Linked DNA regions of Homo sapiens: region 2 is linked to region 1. A link means that fine-mapping ties the variant in region 1 to the plasma level of a protein whose gene starts in the linked region. Region 1 holds a variant in brackets. A gene starts in the other region. All regions are shown on their forward strands.

Region 1 (2,500 bases):
AGTTCTGGGATTACAGGGAAGTAATCCCAGTTAAGTAGTGGTTGAAAGAAGGAGGTAAGGTGGCTCGTGAGCCACCACACCCGGCTAATTTTTGTATTATTAGTAGAGATGGGGTTTCACCATGTTAGTCAGGCTGGTCTTGTACTCCTGACCTGAGGTGATCCGCCTGCCTCAGCCCCCAAAAGTGCTGGGATTACAGGCGTGAGCCACTGAGCCCGGTCTTTTTTTTTTTTTTTTTTTTTTTTTTGAGACGGAGTCTCTCTCTGTTGCACAGGCTGGAGTGCAGTGACACGATACCAGGTCACTGCAACCTCCGCTTCCCAGGTTCAAGCAGTCCTCCTGCCTCAGCCTCCTGAGTAGCTGGGATTGCAGGCGCACGCCACTACATCCAGCTAATTTTTGTATTTTTGGAAGAGATGGGGTTTTACCATGTTGGCCAGGCTGGTCTCGAACTCCTGACCTCAGGTGATCCGCCTACCTCGGCCTCCCAAAGTGCTGGGATTACAGGCGTGAGCCACCACCCCCAGCCAAGACACTGTTCTTCTATCCCATGAGCAACGAAAACTGAGGACCCGAGCTGGGGAAGGGCAAGAGGAGTGAAGAGGGAGGAATGGATGCAATGCCCATTGCCAACGGTGATAGAATGGCCTGGGCTTGGTAGCTGATTGCAGGATGAGGGAAAGGGTTTTGTCAAAGGTGACTGCGAGATTTTACCCAGGTTGTGACATTATAGGACATTAAAGCTACCATTACAGGTGACAAACAGGAAGACACAGGTTAGAGGTAGATTTGGAGATTGTGAGTTCCTTTTGGATGTTTTGAGTTTCTGGTTCTGCTGAGACATCAGCTGAGCATGTTGAACAGGTGATTGGAAATAAGGGCCTGGAGCTCAGGAAAGAGGTCAAAGTGAAGATACACACAAGGTAATCAGCACTATAAAGATTAAAACTGTAGGAGCCAGGGGAGGAGTCTCA[C/G]TCCCGTAAGCCCAGCACTTTGGGAAGCCAAGGCAGGATTGCTTGAGCCCAGGAGTTCAAACCAGCCTGGGCAAGAGAGTGAAACCCCCATCTCCACAAAAAACGCAATATTAGCCGGGCATGGTGGTGCGCCTAGAGTCCCAGCTACTCAGGAGGTTGAGGCAAGGGGATCACTTAAGCCCAAGAGCTCAAGTCTGCAGTGAGTTATGATCGAGCCACTGCACTTCAGCCTGGGCAACAGAGTGGGACCTTAAAAAAAAAAAAAAAGAAAAAACTATAGGAGTGAGTTGGGTGTGGGGAGCTTTTAGAGGGAGTTGAGAAAACAGGACTGAGAACAGAATCTTACAGAACATAAAATTTTAGAGAACCAAAGAAACTGGAAAATGAGGTGCAGACAGAATGGATAAGATTTAGGAACTAGAAGTACTGGAGTTGAGCCAGGGTGGTACACTGTGACTGGAAGCCAAGAGAAGCCAGCGTTGCACGGAGGGTTTCCACAGCAGGATCGAGTATTGCACAGAGTTAGGCGAGGTCATTGAGACTGACAGGTAAGAGATCATTGTAATTTCAGCTGAGTAGTGGAAATACAAGGCAAATTATAAAGAATTTAGGTGGACCGGGCATGGTGGCTCACATCTGTAATCCCAGCTATTCAGGAGGCTGAGGGAGAAGAATCGCTTGAACCCGGGAGGCAGAGGTTGTAGTGAGCCAAGATCGTGCCACTGCACTCCAGCCTGGGTGACAGAGTGAGTGAGACTCCGTCTCAAAAAAAAAAAGAATTTTTTTGATATATTTGCCAATGAAATGAAGGAAAAAATAGGGTAGTAATTTGAGGGAGTGGCATGATCAAAGCAAACAAATTTGTTAGGATTAGGGAGTTTATATATGGAAGCAGACAGAAGGAGCAAGTGGAGAGGAGGAACTGGTGTTAACAGCAAGAGAGAGCATAAGATGTGGAGAGAAAGGATCCCAGAGAGATGAATGGGGAGGAAAGAGGGGGGGAGCATCTACCCCCGGGATCCCAGAGAGATGAATGGGGAGGAAAGAGGGGGGGAGCATCTACCCCCGAACTGGAGGAAAAGGGGGTAAGAAGCACCCAAGAGGCCCTGTTCCTGGCCAGGTGCTGGCCCAATTACCGAGTTTATCTCTGAGCAACCCAGGAGGTCAGCATCATTATACTCATTTCATAGATGAGGCAATTAAGACTCAGAGAAGCTGCCCTGCCAGTAAGCATGAGATCTGGGTTTCAACCTCAGCCCTAGTCCAGAGTCCTCACTCCTTCCCTGCCACCACAATGTCTAGTTCCTGGGAATGACAGAAGGAAAGAGGAGGGTGTGGTACAGGCAGGAAGGAGCTCTGAACGGTTCCCTTATGTTTCTCCTGCAACAGGAAGCTGGCAGCAGACCACCCATTCCTGAAGGAGATGCAAGATCAAGGGGAGAACCTGTATGTGGTGATGGAGGTGGTGGAGACGGTGCAGGAGGTCACACTGGAGCGAGCCGGCAAGGCAGAGGCCTGCTTCTCCC
Region 2 (3,027 bases), not on the chromosome of region 1:
TGAAAGGGGTTAGCATGGTACTGGCACATAGAAACTGCTCAGCTGTTATTCTTGCTTGTATTATGCCTAAACCCAGCTCCCAGTCAACACAAGTGCTACTCTGGCCATAAGGCCCAAGTTTTTTATATACCCCCCCAATTTTTATTCAAAACAAGTGAGTCTATAAATCTATGAAGAGACAGAAAAACTTGTTTCTTATGACCCTCTGAGAAAGTGAATATTGACTACATCAGAGGAACAAATATTACATTTATAAGCACATTGACTTATTATGGGGATAAGGCATTGTTATTTCATTGTCTAGAATGAGTAAACATAATTAATAATTGTAAGCATCCATTAAGCATGTTATGTAAGTTAAAAAAAAGTAAAGATAAGAAAGTCCTTGGCTTTGTATACAGTTTACTACAAGGGAGGTTTCTCTTAATTAAATATGAAAAATATGAAATAATTGCTGTTCTTCCATTAGTAAAGAACAGTTTAGCTATTATACACCCAAGTCATTATAATTAATGTGTAACTAAATGACTTGAGTTAGAGATTAAAGGATTGGTAGGGTTTATAATTCTGAGGAATATCCAGTGGTGAGACATTCAATGAGTAAAAATGTTGTGTTTCTTCAGATTTGTAATTCTTCAAAACCATGTTTATAAAATATCTCTCACATTTATGAGAACTCTAAAAATTAACCAACTAGAAATTTTGTTAGTTGATACTGCTGTTTTAAAGCTATAACTTAAACCTTGAAACAAATTTAATTGATCAATTTAATTGTAGGTAGTGATTACTGTCTATAAATTTGAAGCTGGGAAAAATGTTATTAAATGAAATGACCAAGCTAAAATGAAATTCTATCTAGAAGTTAGGTGAAGTATTTTCAAAAAGGATAAATGGGCTTAAATATATGGATCATGACTGGACAGAGGTGTCTGTGGGCCTAGTCTTCCAAAAAGAGACAATTATTACTAGTAATTTAAAAAAGCAAAAGTAGAAGCATACATTGTGTTAGTCTATATACCCTAGGATCACAAAAGGAAGATAATTGTAGGAAAATTCATGGTAAAGTACAAACCCAATCACATCACAAAATGCTTTGCCAATTTCCAAATTTGTAATGGTATTTCTCACCCAGTTCTTTCATGTAATCCTCAAAGTTTTCACTGGAGACCAGCTTCCAGGTTCCCAAGAAGGGCTCAACCATCATGGAACACTTGCTGAGAAGAGCCACTCGTAATTGAAAACCAAAGAAATATAGGCATTACGGTGCTGCCAGTAGTTTAATTTAAAGAGCGTCTTCATCACGTGACTCTTCTGAAATGGCCAATGGGCAACAGCAGCAAGACTAAAGATTCTAGGCACCAGCATTTGACTCATTTTATTTACCTCCAAATTAAGAGACAGAAAATTAGCATGTAAAATTAAATTCTGGTCAATGATTTTAGCTTCTAGCAAAAAGATTTACACCCAAGTCACCTGACAAATATTACTTGTGGAACGGAGACAATCTTCAATAGACATCAGCTTTTTGAACAATGAATACTGAGTCAACCCTGGAGGAATATCCTGACAAATTGATAAACACCTGGCTGAGATGTTTTCCTACCTAAGACAAGAAATCCTTGCTTGGTCCACCTCAGCTGTTTTTTGTTTGGGTAAGTCACAGTGCTCAAACATCCTCTTCATTAAAATAATATCTTCCCTTCCCTTCCTTACAGGGTTGATGGGTTGATATTAGTTAATGTAACTAAAATGCCTATAATTGCTTGGAGGGAAATGGAGGGTATTATTAATATATTATCATTGTTGTTAATCGAAGGTAATTGAGGACAGGAAAGAAAGGTGACAATTATCATTGGATAATAGTATATGATTTAAGCTCTGAAAAGGAAGCAGAGCGAATGCCTACAAAATTCGTCTTTCAGGCTTACAAAGTAAACTCTACATTAAAAGATATTTTAAATTATAAGAAAAAATTTTGGCAAGTTTCATATAGAAAAAGATGTTTGGAATCTGCATTCTAAAAGAAAGACAAAGGCAGCAAATGGTTTCAATCTCTGTGCCATTACTTCTGAAACCATCTTCTGCAACCCCAATAATGGAAGTGGACTTTGCAGGTACTGAGTTTAGTAAGAAGGAGTAGATTCAGTAGCTGTTGATTTACATTACGGTTTTGAACTCCAGTTAACTTTAGAAGATGTTGGAAAGTTAGTGTCAGGGACCAGAAGAAGAATATTTATATTTTTACCTGCTTTGTATGAAGTATTTATTTAATTCAGAAAATATTGTTTGTGAACAAAATAAACAGGAGGTTGATATTTTGGTACTGTAAAACAATAACTTAAGTGGAATAAAGGATGGCTTTTGATGAAAACATATAAAGAAGAAACATATAATGTGATATCTTTATGGGTGGGACAATTATTAAATTATCTACAGTGCAAAACAGGGTAAGTGAAAATCCTGGAGTTAATTTCAGGAAACTAAGACCCAAGCTCAAAATAAGTGCCTCAGCAGTTGAAAGTGCATTCAGAGGTGATGTTCAAATATAGAGCAAGTTGTTAAACGTTTGCTTAACTGGTTCGAGATGTGTATGCACTCTCTGCTTTAAAGAAAGCAAGCATACATTGCTATGCCTGTTGGCCAGCTGGGTAGTGTAGCAAAGGTCTCCCATCAGCATAATCTTCCTTGTTGTTTTGATTCTCCTGTCATAGAATGATATTCCTGTGGTCCGTTTAGAACTCAGTTGGCCCATGAGACAAAAGCTAACATCAGATTTCTGGTTTCAATTATCCTCAGCAAACTAACGCAGGAAGAGAAAAACACCTCATGTTCTCACTTATAAGTGGGAGCTGAACAGTAAGAACACATGGACACAAGGAGGAGAACAATGCACACTGGAGCCTGTTGGGGCCAGGGCTATGGGGGGAGGGAGAGCATCAGGATAAATAGCTAATGCATGTGGGGCTTAATACCTACGTGATGGGTTGATAGGTGCAGCAAACCACCATGGCACACATTTACTTATAT

Alleles and levels. Alleles are on the strand shown, and positions count from the first base shown. The strength of an association depends on the size of the effect and on how common the allele is.
As copies of G replace C in region 1, the plasma level of the protein whose gene starts at base 1,257 in region 2 goes down (strong association).

What was found. PIP is the chance, under the fine-mapping model, that this variant and not a neighbour inherited with it causes the effect. Protein levels are from antibody-based Olink assays in UK Biobank. Linkage for the fine-mapping came from a reference panel and not from the study's own genotypes, which makes the PIPs less certain.
Region 2: FABP9 starts here. The variant in region 1 is fine-mapped to the plasma level of the FABP9 protein (UK Biobank, PIP above 0.99).

The regions. Positions count from the first base shown.
Region 1 is chr17:39,968,119-39,970,618 of GRCh38, forward strand. GSDMA (gasdermin A) reads left to right here. Exons shown (of 12, transcript NM_178171.5): 4 at 2,364-2,500. Among named protein-coding and RNA genes, the nearest start is that of GSDMA, 6.4 kb to the left of the region's middle. The variant C/G (reference allele first, on the strand shown) is at 975.
Region 2 is chr8:81,460,323-81,463,349 of GRCh38, forward strand. It overlaps FABP9 (fatty acid binding protein 9), which reads right to left and starts at 1,257. Exons shown (of 4, transcript NM_001080526.2): 1 at 1,129-1,257. The coding sequence starts at 1,201. It overlaps LOC101927118 (a long non-coding RNA gene), which reads left to right and starts at 1,136. Exons shown (of 9, transcript XR_001745980.2): 1 at 1,136-1,652.